2 linked regions of the Homo sapiens genome follow. The protein of the gene in region 1 interacts with the protein of each later gene in a biochemical or structural test. Each region holds a gene or a part of one and is shown in the gene's direction. Other genes may lie near its edges.

Region 1 (8,213 bases):
TATAAATCTTAAGATTTTTTTTCTATTTCTGTAACAAATACCATTAAGATATTGATAGGGATTGCATTGAGTCTTTAGATCACTTTGGGCAAGTGAGCATTGTAACAATATTAATAATTCCAAATGATGACATTGGCATGTCTTTTCATTTACCTGGGTTTTCTTTAATTTCCTTCATCAGAATGTTATAATTTTCAGTGTAAAAATGTTTCACCTCTTTAGTTAAGTTTATTCCTAAGTATTTTATTCTTTTTAATGCTATTGTAAATGGAATTGTTTTCTTAATTTCCTTTTCAGATTTTTCATTGTGTATAGAATACCATTGATTTTTGTATGTTGATTTTGTAGCCTGCAAATGTACTGATTTCAAACATTCAAAGAATAACAATTGTCCTACATTCTCACAAAAAAACAGAAGAGAGGGAATGCTTCTAAACTCATTTTATGAGGCCACCACCCTAATACCAAAGCCAGACAAACCTACCACAAAAAAAAGAAAAATATAGGCCAATATCCCTGGTGAAAATACATGCAAAAATCCTCAGTAAATGCTAGCAAACCAAATTCAAGAGTGCATTAAAGGGATTATACACCATGATCAAGTGGGATTTATCTCTGGGATGAAAGAGAATTCAACATATGAAAATTAATCAATGTGACACATTGCATTAAGAAAATGAAGCTTAAAAACCATACACGATTTTCTCAATAGATGAAGAAAAAGCATTTGAGAAAATTCAACATGAATTCATGATAAAGCCCCTCAGAGAAACAGATATAGAAAGAATAATAAAAGCCATATATGAAAAGCCCACAGCTAACATAATAATCAATGGGAAAAAAACTTAAAACTTTTCCTTTAAGACCGGGAACAAGGCAAGAATGCCCACTTTTCCACCTCTATTTAACGTAGTACTGGACGTCTAGCCAGAGACTAGAGAAGAAAATGTAATCAAAGCATACACATCAGAAAAGAAGAAGTAAAAATATTTTTATTTGCAGATGATTTAGCCGTATATGTAGAAAACCCTGAAGACTCAGCCAAAAAACTATCAGAACTGATTTCAGCACTTTCTCCCTGTGCCTCTAGCTCTGACTCTCATTGTTCAGATTTAAGTCAATTTCCCTCTCAGATCTGATCATCACTTTCCATAGCCACAATCAGACATTCATGAAGACTTATTTACTGAGAAAAAAATTAATGACACTGACCTTGGGAAATTATCTTTACTTCCACTGTAGTTTGTAAAATCTTAAAACTTAACAGCTAGATTTTCACCTGACCTCTATTTTAATGTTGTCATCATCACCTCTATTTTTAATTTTGTCATTCTCCCTACCAAAGTGAATGAATTTAAAGAGAAAGAAAAAGAAGACCAACATTTATACCATGTAAACAAAGAAGAAAAAAGGCATAACTCTGTTAAAATGACATGTTCATATTTTTAGTCATCCTCCTAGTTACTTTCTAAAAACTTGAATTAAAAAACAGATTTAAAATTTTAATTTTTTGTGGGGAGTTCTTATAGGTTTTGACAGTACTCCCAGTTTACTGAAACTGTTTGGGTCAATTTAATATTGGGAAGATAAAACCTATTATAGTTTTAAAATATAAAGCTAAAAAAGGAAATTCAATGTCAAATATGTACCTTCTCTTAAATGTGATGATGTTCTTTTGTATCATTTGATATTGTTATAAGTTAAAATGTAAAACTATTAAAATGCATGTGAATAGAGATTTTTAACTTGTTTTTTAGGGTCCAGTGACACTTTTATTAACTTGGAGTGTCCAAAATACTTTCATCTTGAGATCCCTTCAAATTATTTCATTTCCCTATTTAATAAATATTTATGAAGAGCCTATTGCATGCCAGGCACTATTTCAGCCACTGGAGTTCAGTTTGTGAACAAAATCAATAAAGCTCCTATCCTCATGAAACTTATTGCTGGTGGAAGAGACAAAACACAACCAAAAAAGCAAAGCATTTTTATGTACCCTGAATGCTTACGTTCCCCCAAAATTAATATGTTGAAATCCTCCCCGCCAAGGTGATGGTAGGAAGAGGTGGGAACTTTGGGAGTGATTTGGGTTATCCAACCCTCATGAATGGGATTAGTGTCCTTATAAAAGAGGCTGAAAGTGACCCTTCACTCCTTGCACAGTGTGGGATCACAACGAGAAGATGACTGTCAACGAGACAGCGAGCCCTCAACAGACACTGACCTGCCAACCCCTTGATCTTAAACTTCCCAGCCTCTAGAATTGAGAAATAAATTTCTGTTGTTTTAAAGCCACCCAGTTTAGGATATTTTGTTATAGCAGCTGGAACAGACTAAGACACATATATAGCATAATGTCAGGGTATGATAAATAACATAGGGTCAGGAGACAGAGCATGGTTTAAGTGGGAACACTTTAGACAGGGTGGTTAGCGAGTGCCTGTTGAAGAGTGACTTCTGGCCAGAGACGTGAATGAGGAGAGTGAGGAAGTCATGTGAATATCTGAGGCAAGAACAAACTTCTCAATGTACTTTATGACCACTGGAGAACCCAGACCTAAAGACCCAGGTTATGAAATAATGAGCAGTAGAAAAGCAAACCTAACAGTTTTGTAAAGATAAAAATCAAGTTCCTGTTGTGGCATGACAAGTCATGGGACTCAAAAATCACGTAGACATAAACATTCACTTAGATAGATCCATGCCAGGGAAAGGTATGAACCCTTACCAAGCAAATTACATACACAGACAAGAGCCAGTGCTGTCCACAAGCAAGCTATTCCTAGGTCATAAACTGATTTAAGAAACACATTTTCTTTAGAGTTTTGACTGGGTTGTGGCCATCTGCAAAAATGAAAACCCATTGGGAGAAAATCTGCATAGTTCAACATAGAACAATGAAAGGAAGTGTCAGCCTGTATCCCAGCCCTGAAATGGAATGAGCTCTGTTTCTGCACAGAAGGCAGTTGAGACAATGTCAGTTACCCATTCCACTCATTTTGGTTTATTTTAAGGAAAATGCAATCTATGCAGTGTTTAGGAAATTATATACACCTTTGAAATTAGGATTTATTGCAATCAGGTAACCTTTAATAATGCAAAATGTGTATTTAAAAATACATTTAGTAATTAAGAATCGTACTCGATGCTTTTAGAACAGTAAAGTGATTAGTATTTCAATATACTTTCATCCAGATTACATTTTCTTCAGAAATAACATGTTCTTTTAATTTTCTATTTTTATGAACTTTGTTAACAATATTGAAAAGTAAAGACAACTGTTGAAATGTAAGCCCTTTTTGTCTGTTAAGTAATAGTAGGAGCTTTTATTTACTGGATTATTTGAAAATAAACTTTAGCAAGAATATTATAGAGGTGAGTCTTTATATTTGCTCAGTGAATTCTCTAAATTTTCTATGACGTTTTATAATTCTCTTAGATGATTTATATTTTAATTTCTAATAAATTTATACTTAAATTCACAAAAAAATGAGACTGATCAGAAACAACCTCATTTTGGAAGAAGCAGGACTGCAAAAATTAATATAACTGTCTTTTTTTGTTGTTTTCTTAGAACTACTCAGGAATATATTACAGACTTCACAAAGAGGAATACTACTTTGCACTAAGTCATATTCTAATGACTAATAAGTTAGAATATGATTAATACAAGATATATGCAAGAGTTCAGGCTAGAGTTACTCAAAGATTGATGAAGCCAGATCATGGAATGCAGTTTAGCGCAGTTACTAGGTGCAGTTTGACACGTTATTCACAATTTCCAGTGCCTCCAAAGTCCTCAGAGGATCCAGTCTAAACAAGCAAAGCTTGAGGAAAGACTCTTGAAATGTTAACTAACTTGTGTTTCTCAAAATGTTTCATGTAACTCTTTCCTATATCAGTTCTCAAACTTCTCTATAAAAAACAAATTCCTGAGATCGTTGTACCCTTTGTTATAGCACTTAACAAACTTTGTAATGAAAAATTTTGCATTTATGTTTTCCCTCCTTGATTTTAAATATATTTCTTCAATGTAGAAACTGTTTTTTCATACTAAATACTAAGTAAAGAGTAACACAAATTTTATATAAATTACACTTAGATATTTATGAAATGAATTAAATAACTTTCAAAATTTGTATACCAAATAGAGAAACAGACATGTTAAGAATATAGTGGCCGAGCGCAGTGGCGCATGGCTGTAATCCCAGCACTTTGGGAGGCCAAAGCAGGTGGATCACTTGAGGTCAGGCCTAGTTCATGACCAGCCTGGCCAACATGGTGGAACTCCATCTCTAGTAAAAATACAAAAATTAGCCGGGTGTGGTGGCACGCGCCTGTAATCCCAGCTACTCTGGAGGCTGAGGCAGGAGAATCGCTTGAACCTGGGAGGGGCAGGTTGCAGTGAGCCGAGATCGTACCACTGCACTCCAGCCTGGGCGACAGAGCGAGACTAAGTCTCAAAAACAACAACAACAACAACAACAAAGAATTTAGTAAGTATCTGAGTTTTGAATAGTCCTTTCCCCCAATTTACTATATAAATTTAATTTTCAAGCATTGGAACGTGGTCTATTTCTCAATTCTGTATACATTTAATTCAAGGTGCTGTAGCTGAGAGTTTGGAGTCTTCCTTTCCATGTCAGTAGGGGATGAGGAAACACACACACACACACACACAAACACACACACACACACACAACCCTGTTATCCTAAAAGCAGTTTTGGAGGTGGCTGAGAGGAGAGAACTTAGGAACTTAGCTGAGGAAATGATGAAAAGGACATTGTTTTGTGTCTCAGGAACCATGTGGAATTCCAAGATAAGAAAAACAGTTGCTAATTTGAGTATAAAAGCAGGAAACATGATACACTTATTTCCTTTTATGCGAACACAAGTATATGAGGGGTTGTGTAAAAATTATTTTTCTCTTGCTGTACTACAAAGAGATAGAATCAAACTGCTTTTTTTCGACATACTGGTTTTTCTTTCTGTTTTTCTTCTCTTTCTTCTATTTCTTGTGGATATTATGGCTAATAACACAACAAGTTTAGGGAGTCCATGGCCAGAAAACTTTTGGGGTAAGGTATTTTCTTTTACTGTTTAAAATTTAAAATTAGGATGTAAGAAATGCACTGCGTGATTATTAAAACAGTGAAAATCTCTGAGACATTTTGTTTACTATAATGTGATTACTTAAAGTTTTCATGTTTATTAACAGAAATCTATTTCATACGTTTATTAGCAGAAATATATTTATAGATATAAATATATACTTATATATTTATTTGTCTTTATAGTGTTCTATGAAGATATTCAAGAAGAATCTGGGTATTAAGTACAGATTTTGGCTGGTGTTACAAAATATAATTAGGAAATAGTGAGGATAAAAATAAAAAACATAAGGTGGAGGTAATTCCTGCTTAGAATATGGCATGTAGATTTTGTTGGAAAAATTAACTTTCATTTGTTTGAAGGTTATAGATTATATATTTTATTTTATGAAACTGAGATTTTCCATAGAGGCTATTTTCACTTATGTTGTGAATGTTATATGCTTTAATTTCCAAAGTGAATCCTAATAACATCTGTACTTAAATGAGTGAATTTAAAGTGCAATAACACAGGTAAAATAAATGAATGACTTTAGAGTATAACAAATAAAACATGGAATAATATGAAATTTGAGAAAACTATAGTAGAAAAGATTAAGTGGAAATAACATCACGTGTAACATTCAATGGAATCCTATCACAGGGGTTGGGGGGAAAGAACAATACAAAAGTATTTTTTGGAGAATTTTTTGTCTGAGTCCAGCCACAGCTAACAGTCCAGTGTTCCCTGATGTTGACAATGGGACTGTGCTGAGGTCAAAACTCAGTTGCTCCAGGTTAGAGGTACAAAGAAGATGGGCTCACATGGGGAGTTGACATGTACTCTTGGGTTCAGGGAAATTTTTATATTAAAGGAGGCAATTTAAATTAAATTCAGAAAAACACTTTAATGAAGAAAATAGTATATATGGACAGATCTGTTTATATGGCCAGAACAAGTTTTTAATCCTCTCAGTGTACAATTCAGACTTTCTGCTGTGATTCAAGGTGGGGTTTTGGGAACTTTCACATAAACAGTGAGCAGTAGTGGCCGACTTTTCCCAGCAATCTATATGTCTACCATCACAGAAATTTGCATGAAAAGAATTCACTCCAGTCCTTTAACCTATGTACTTTCTTAGATGAAAAATGTGGGGACAAATATTTATTGGTTTTAAAAGATATTAAAATTCAGCATAAGAAAAAAAAGAATTAACTCATTCTTTTTTTCTCACCTACATTTATGTTTGCTGGAAGACTGAAAAGGAAGGATATTGGTGAGCTCCTAATAAATTTATGTAACAGAATTAAGAAGAAGAAAAAAGATTATTCTAGTACATTGTAAAGAAAGGCTTTGGTAATAGGTTATTTTAGGTAGCTAGCACTAGACAGAAGCCTTTGAATTGTAGATGTCTGATTATATGCTTGTTAAAATATTATTTGCTGTCCTCACTTATAGAGAAAATAAGTGCTAAATGCACACTGAAAAAGAGCTAGAGTCTGTCTAAATCAAATTCATCATTATAAAAGTGTTCTGTATAAATTATTCAAAAGTAAAGTAGTTTTTGCAAAAATTAATATGTAGAAGTCAATCTATTTTTTTCAAACCATTCAAAATTAAATTTCAGGTTTACTTAAAAAAACAAATCATTATTCACTGACTAAAAGATTAAAATAAACTTGATATTAATAAGAGAATGTTTAGTTGGAGTTCACCTATTGATTCTAAAAATTTAGATATTTTTAATATGGAAATCTGTGCTTAAGAGGGAATTAAAACCTGTTATTTCAAAGCCAAATACTAGTTTTTCCTTTCTCTTGTTATGTGACTGTAATGAAAATTAGATGAAAATAATGAAAACCAGAAAGGGGAGTGTTACATTGATAAACATTAACAAAGCCAATGGAAACATGGAGAGCAGATATAATGTTTGATGATTTTAGGAAAATATATAAAAGATTGTATTATTGCCTCTGGGGTAAAAATATGAAGTATAAAATGTGAATAAAAATATAAACATATAAAATGTATACATTTCCTGAAATATAAATGTCAATCTTTTAAATTTCCATTGCTTTTGTGTATCTAAATTGATGTCTATTTTGACCACTGACTCCTCAAAAATATTATTTTGAGAATCTTGTACAATGCAGTGTAATGCATTGTTATTGCTTCCAAAATCAGTCATCTGCTTGGCACATTGAATTTGGAAAATAAAGAAAAACAGCTTAGAAAAGGAAAACTTGTACATTGAACCATATAAATTGCTCAGACGTAGCACACTTTAAGGTACAGAAAAAGTTGTTTTCCCAATATAACTTTTCTGGTTTACTTTAATGAGCGCTAAATGATGGCATAATAATATCGGGTTATTACCAAAAACAATAGCTTGCATTTTCATAGCTATCACCCACTAAAACTTCCTAAAGGTGTGCAAGCATTTAAGTGCAAGGGTTGGCAACAAAGTTAGCCTGAAAGTGACAACACAGATGCAGACTATCACCTTCCACTCCCTATTTTTGCTTTCTTTAACGCACTTCCTTTCTCTATAAACATTCCCATGAAAGCTGCAGGAAACATGGCCCGTGAAAATTTGCCATGTCCTCCTCTAAGGCAATAGGAGACAAATACTGAACTCAGTTATTCTCTCAGTACTTGAGAGTCCTGTAGAAGACGTAGTTTTGGTTGTTTCTGCTGTCTTGCTTTGCATTTTTTTCCTTATGGCTAGCTTTGTGAAAAGTTGGGGGAAGATGTGGTTGCAGGAGTTTGCATTTATTCACTTAATTCAATTCTCACCAAAAGTACAATGTCTGTCTCAAAAGGATTATGCTCTTGGAGGCAATTATGCGTCTATACATATGCTACATATGCACATACAAACCTATATAGTTGTGGAATAATACAAGATAACATATGATAAAATAGCAATGGTTGATAATATGAGTTAAAACAATATATGGCAGAAATAATCCCTAAATCTTTCTCAGAAAAAAAATGAGGTGCTATCTGTTCCTAGAAAGATAAATTTCAGACAGGGAGATAATTCTAAGAAGGACATTCTAGTCATTCATTTTTTTCCCTCACCAACTCATTCTCATCCAGTTCATTAGTTCACTCAGAA
Region 2 (7,104 bases), on another chromosome or scaffold:
CTTTTTCTTCATAAATAACTTTGAAAGCATTTCATTTGCAGGGATAATGGAAATAAAATTAGTGATGAATTTGTTAACTGATGGAAAAGTTCACAAAATCATATTATTTACTTCATCAAATAGAATATATATATGTGTGTATATATATGTATATATAATGTATGCATGTATATAACATTTTATTTTTTCATATTTCATTTTTTTCAGTGGAAAAAATACCTAAAATTTGCAAGTATGCTGTTATGAGGACACACTTTATATGTTTAGGCTGATATACTCAAATTTTAATTTGATTTGTTACTAGTTTAGTTGCCTGGACGATTTTTGTAACCTCTGTATGTCTCTGTTTCCTCATCTTCAAGAGAGGTTAATACACTTGTATCATGGGGTGATTTGAAGAGCAGATGGAGTAACATATAATAACTTAGCACAGTATTTGGCACATGATAAGGACTTACTGATATTATTTCTGTGTATTATGTATCAACAATTAACAAATTTGTATGTAGGAAAACTTGTTTTTAAAAGTCAAGGTTGGGCACAGTGGCTCAGGCCTGTAATCCCAGCACTCTGGGAGGCCAAGGTGGGCGGATCACCTGAGGTCAGGAGTTTGAAACCAGACTGGCCGACATGGTGAAACCCTGTCTCTACTAAAAATACAAAAAAAAAAAAAAAAAAAAAATTAGCTGGGTGTGGTGGCGCATGCCTGTGATCCCAGCTACTCGGGAGGCTGAGGCAGGAGAATTGCTTGAACCCAGGAGGCAGAGGTTGCGGTGAGCTGAGATCACACCACTGCACTCCATCCTGGGTGACAGAGCAAGACTCTGTCTCAATAAATAAATAAATAACAAATAAGAATAAAAATAAAAGTCAGTAGCTATAAATGAGTCTATCAATTTAAATGAAACCAGAGTATAAAAAGTTTATATTCTGTGGAATTCACAAATAAAAAATGTTAAAATATGTCTATTTTTCCCACCAAAGCACTTGCTGCTTTTGTGAAGAGACTCATGTATCAGTATGAAAATGGTACAGTAGAGCATCAATAATTGAGGCAGAAATAATATATCTACTCTAAATCTTCAATTCCAAGGTTTAATATATTCACCATTTAAATGTGATTCAAATGTAAGTTAGGTTTGCAAAATATGATTTCAGACTTTTTTTTGGCTAAGACTTACGATACTTTTACATTTTCTCATGTAACAATTAGATGTTTTAGTTATTTATAGCATCCATTTGGATAAAAATATTTCAAAATATTCAAACACCACGTTTTAAGAATTACAAATAAAAAAGCATGCAGTAGTAGTGGAAAATGTCAGTGGCACAGGCAAAGGTGTTAGTAGGTTGGGACACATTAGGAAAGAAGTTATTGTAGAGATACAGTAAATTCACTTTGCTAAGTTCAGGGTCCTGAGTGATTGCCACAGCACAGTATTTTCAATTCCCAAAAAAGTCCCAAATCACATACTGAAGATATTTTCACAGAAATAAATACATTATCATGTAAGAATGCATTTTTTCTTTAAAGTAAGAGATTTAGGTTTTGCTTTAATTCCTTAGAGCAGTGATGAAAAAGAAAAAAAGCTGAAGGATGCATTTTCCGATCTTTATGGCTACTATTATAAATTCCCCAGATCTGCTAACTATGACCTTCTTCTTGTCTCCATTCTTATGAATTAGTCCAGAGAATGCTGAAGAACTGGAAGATAAACAGAGGCAAAGAAGATAGATAGGGCATTAAAGAACCAATCTCCTAGGGAAGGTTTACAACTTGACCTTCTGATGCACTTAGAACAGTGTCATTAGCAGTACTAATTACTTTTTTCAAGCCATTAGATTGTTTTCCTATTCTCAAAGACTGCCATTACTTACATTTCCAAATTTTTACCTTTTCTCCTGGTTTACTTCCCATTTGGCCCCGATTGAAAAAAATCTTTATTATTTTGGTATTTAAAAATATTTGTTTCTAACATTTGTTCAATCATTTGATATGTTATTTTTTACTTATTATATAATGATATAAATACTAGTGATCCCTAAAATATTTTAATTTGAAAATAAAAGTGAACACATAGATTTCACAAAGTACATGCATCACAATTTTTTTATACTCTATTAGTTTTTAATTTTTATAGGTACATAGTGGGTATATATATTTATAGGATACATGAAATATTTTGATACAGGCATACCGTGTGTAATATTCACATCAGGGAAAATGGGGTATCATTGCCTCAAGAATTTATCATTTCTTTGTGTTATAAGCATTTCAATTATACTTTCAGTTATTTGAAAATATACAATAAATTGTTGTTGACTGTAGTCACTGTTGTGCTATCAAATACTAGATCTTCTTCATTCTATCTATCTATATTTTTGTACAGCCTCTGGTAACCATCACTTGAATCGCTATCTCTGTGAGTTCAGGTGTTTTAATTTTTAGCTCCCACAAATGAGTGAGAACATGCAAAGTCGGTCTTTTTTGTGCTCAGCTTATTTCACTTAAGGTAATGACCTCCAGTTCCTTCATGTTGTTGCAAATGACAGGATCTTATTCTCTTTTATGGCTGAATATTACTCCATTGTGTATATGTGCCATTATTTTCTTTATCCATTACACTGATAGTTTATTTTTTAAAATAATTTCTGATGCTGCTTTTTCATACTTATTACTTTTTCCTCAGAAAAGTCCCATTGGATTTCACAATTTCACAATGCAATAAGAAGCCTATCTGATAGTGAGTAGCCTTTAAATTGTTGTTGTTATTATTTTATTGAGTCCTCTTTGTATTTACAAAGATTAAGGAGTTTCTAACCGTATCTACACTTGTAATAAATGTTATTCTTAGTCTTCACACTTGTAAAGGATAATGGTGATGAATGCAGCGGCAGAGGCTGCACGTTCCCACCCAGCACTCTCACTGAAGACTGCCTAATCAGCACTGGCTGCTGGTACTTTTCTCTGCAAGCTTAGTCTCTTCCAGGAATGACAGGTGGTAGGTAATCCTGGGAACTCAAGAGCCTCCTTGAAGCTTGGACTGATTAGAGCACAAACCATGAGCTGTTGAAATCTGGTCCCTGAACAGGAGAGTTTTTGACATGAAGCTGCTCTAGATTGCTGTAGGGCTGGGTCTCAGATCTGGTGTATCTGCCTGTTTCCATGAAAAGAGCGGAATCTTCAAAAATACTCAGGCTGTTTGTCTATTCCTCTAATAAAACTTCTATTGATGTTATATAGAATCTTGAGCAAAAGATTTGGCATCGCACCTTTTATGAGTTTCAATAAACCTTGTGATTTAAATAGTTTCATCATTGATGACAGTCTTTGGGTGAGGCCACAAGAGAGTCGCTTCTCGAGTGTCCATTAGTATATGGTGGGAAGACAGGAGGTCAATACTAAGGCTAGGAGTGAATTGCTACTGGTGCCTTCTTGCCTCAGACCAGCGGTCTTTTCGGTGTTCATGTCATAGATTGTTGAGGTCCCCTCGTTGTTTAATGTTTTGCCTCAGACTCCCGCCTGTAAACAGTACACATCTTTCTCCCTCACTTTAGCTGCTCATCATTTAAGCTGTCATTGGTCAGACATCCTAAACTTTCTCATTGTGACTAGGGCTCTGAGGGTTCCAGGGGTTCTAATTATTATCGTGGCTGCAGTGTAGGTGTCCATCACCGAGATGGGGCACCTGAGCTACTGAGCAGCCAGAAAAAAACTTTCTCCTTATCCTTGGCATCTGCCATCAGTTTAAGTACTGATTTAGGAATCTTTACGGCAAAGAAGAGGCTCTTCATCCCCGGCCCCATCCCCACCGCGCCCACCCGGCCCACATACACCCTCGGAGCCTGCTTTCCGCAGACTCCCCTATGTCCTGTCCTTGACTCCAGTTAACCTGGAGATGCTAGTTCTGGGAACTCCTAGAGGCTCTGTTGCCTCCTCCGCCTGCTCTGCGTTCCCCGCGTGAGCGCTGGATTATTCCAGTCTTTGAGCATGGCAGATTTCCACTGGATGACATCATGGGAGCCCAGTGAATGCCGGCTCAGAGAGGGGGACGGAGAAGGGGAGGGGGAGCAGAGGAGGGGAGAGGACTGGGGAGCCGAGCCAGAGCCGGGCTGCCTGCCACCCGGCTGCTCGTCCGCTAGCTGGGGAGGAGCGCTCCACCCGCAACTGACAAAGGATGGGAGAATGCCCGCGCCCCGGGATGCCGGCCGCACGCAGCCTGGCGGCCGCCTGAGCTACTTCACCCTCCGCCGGTAAGTGACTGCAAACATCATTCATTCAATCAGCCTCACTGGGAGCCCCTTCTCTCCGGCTGGTAGTCCTGGGCGGCTTGTCCCTGATCCCGAGCGGGGCTTGGCACAGCATCAGCCCTGGAGGGCAGGCAGCAGGTGCCTTTGCCTGGTGGGTCCACTGGGGAGCGTGGCTGGGGTTCGCGGCGGGTGCTGCCACCCAACCTGCGGGCGGCGGGCTCGCCCAGTAGGCGCCTCTCTGGTGAGAGGAGGCGGCTCCAGCCCGCAGCCTGGGGTAGTTGCTACTATTGGCCCCCAGCGCCCGCTCTGCGCGCGCGCCGTTTCTGGCGGATCCCCAGTGCGCGGCGCGCTGTTTACACCGGCGTGGTACTAGTCACGGAGCCGCACCCCTCGGAAAGCGCGGAGTCGATGACAGCCACTTCACAGGCTCACGCGCTCCTAGTGTGGGCTTGAAGGGGACGGGGACCGATTACCAAAGGAGAGCGCTGAGTACGGAAGACACAGGGCAGCCTTTGTCTTGGGTTTAGCGCTGATGCGCTCAACCCTGAGTCGGGTTCACTGCAACTGTTGTGTCCGATTTCGGTTCCCTGCAACCGCCCTCCTGGGCGAGAGATGTCATTGTGTTCCTGCGGCCAGCGGGACTGAGAGCTGGGACTTAAGACGCCAGGAGGGTCCTGCGCTCACGGGTGAGTGTCGCAGTTATCCAGGTGCTGAGGGAGTTTCTGGAGCTCCAGGAAGTGGAGTGACCAGTCGAGGCAGAGAGACGCCCAAGTTTTATCCCCAAATGGTGTGAGGGAAATGGCAAAGTTAAGGGAGACTCACTCTCGCTCTTTTCTCTGGTTTCTGAAGCGCTGATTTTGGAGATTTGTGACAGGTGAATGGAATCAGAGGCATGGCCAATATGTAGTTAGAGAGCCTCACGTTTTCCTGGCAATTCTTATTGTTATTCAGTAGTTCCAGAAAAGATTTGCTTGCTAAACATTTTTGAGATCAAAATGTTTTCTATTATAGAGCTCTGTGGGTTTGACGAAAAAAGATTCTGAACCTGCTCAGGTACCTTAGTTTAGAGTTGTCTCGCCTATAAGTGCTATATAGCCAACATGCCAACACCCAACCCCCTGGCTTTTTGCTTGGCGGACACAGGTTTTATTGATGAATTCCTTGTTTAGGAGGTTCAATTTTCAGATCACAAGGAAGCGGTGGTACCTATCAGAACATCTGTTTCTAATGTCAATGTGTTTACAAAAGGAATATCTCGTGAAAAAGATGGAAAGAAGTGAAAGTTTGCTACTTTGGGGGTTCAGTGACTTTTTCTGTTTTCATCCACTACAATCGAAAATATTTAAACTTTAAATAGTAATTTTGTATGTATGAATTTAATGTATATTAAATGTAAATAATCCTTGAACATTAAGGAGATTCTTGGTATACCAGTTTGGTATCCCAGCATCTAACATAATGCTATGGTATAAGAAAGCAACAATCACAATAATAATTCAAAGGGTTATTTTATTTTTCTTGAAAGAGGCTAATTTTTCTTCAGATGATTTTTTTTCTTTAAAGATAGATGATTCTAATGAAGCTTTTCTGAAACAGGATTGAAATAATTTTTCTTAGTGATTGCTCTTTTGATAAAGTTTGAGTCTTTTCAGAACAGATTTGATAGAAAATTATTGGAATAATCAATGTGGTGGAAGTTAAAAAGAAACTGGGTGAGATAATACAGGGAGGCTTTACTAAATATGAATGGTGGGACTATCAGAAGGTGCTGTGTCAGTTTTGATTTTGGAAAAGCTCATTGTAGCTTTTACATGCGTATCTCTACTGGGAAGTGCATAATTATATGTCTGATTATGTCACGCTATGTTGAGAGACCAATGTTATGAGCAAAGAGCTTGTTTTAATCCAGGACTTATGGGGTTGTCAGCAACGTTTTCTTCTGTGATACAGTTTTTTTTATTTCATTGTTTCTTGACTAATTGTCACAATAGGCTCCACCTGTTTTATCTGAAGTCGTCTTTCTAACTTTGTTGTACTATGTTTTTATGATAATGGGGTTTTACTTTAAGGTTCTTAGAGAACCTGTTGCTCATGTTGACTACTTTCCTCAAGTATTGTAATAGCAAAAACTCTTTTTGAAATAGACTTATGAACGTACGAGCTTCTGACGTGCTTACATGATGGGGTGTACACTATATAAAAATCTACATTTACATACAATATGTGTATAACTCTGATCAGATAATCAGCTAGCAATGATCAACAGGAGGTACTGTGGTGTTTGGCTCATGGTTTTTGGCATATGATATTACCTTTAGCGATAAGATGTTTTACCTCCTTAACATGGTAAATAAAAATGTATATTGAGAAGAACAGATTACATTTTATGTATGAAATCTTTAATTTTATTTCAAAAATATTTTATCCAAGAAGGTCAAAAGTACATAGATTCTTCACATTCCACTAGAATACTGAGAAAATTTCTCAGAAAGTATAAGCATATTATAAATAGATATAATTTGACTTATTTGATAGCTAGTACAATATTATTTTTAAAACCACATGGAGTAAAATAGTGTCCTTGAACTAGAGAGTATTCTCATAATGTTCTTTAATGTATTTCACACATACTTTGCCTATTTTGTTGCACAAGGGCTCTTAACTGGGCAAGGTGAGAAAAAGGAGGAAGTTGCATTATAGGGCAAAAATAAAGCCATAGCACAAAGCCCAGGGCAGGCAATAGTGATGTTCCAAGGTCACCGAAAAACATGATGTCAGGACACTGGGAAGTATCCATGGAAAGATCCTGTATGAAGAATAAGTTTATGCTGTTTGACGACCTCTTGCTTTCAT

Evidence for each region. The genes of interacting proteins can lie anywhere in the genome.
Region 2: the proteins of MYCT1 (region 1) and MARCHF1 form a complex in vitro, tested with the Homo sapiens proteins (one study listed by BioGRID).

What each region holds. Positions count from the first base shown.
Region 1 is NC_000006.12:152,693,020-152,701,232, forward strand, and holds the start of MYCT1 (myc target protein 1), read left to right. Parts: upstream 1-4,877; 5' UTR 4,878-4,883; coding exon 4,884-5,079; intron 5,080-8,213. UniProt on the Homo sapiens protein: May regulate certain MYC target genes, MYC seems to be a direct upstream transcriptional activator. Does not seem to significantly affect growth cell capacity.
Region 2 is NC_000004.12:164,381,020-164,388,123, reverse strand, and holds the start of MARCHF1 (E3 ubiquitin-protein ligase MARCHF1), read left to right. Parts: upstream 1-4,104; 5' UTR 4,105-4,254; exon of another isoform or gene 4,255-4,937; intron 4,938-7,104. UniProt on the Homo sapiens protein: E3 ubiquitin-protein ligase that mediates ubiquitination of TFRC, CD86, FAS and MHC class II proteins, such as HLA-DR alpha and beta, and promotes their subsequent endocytosis and sorting to lysosomes via multivesicular bodies.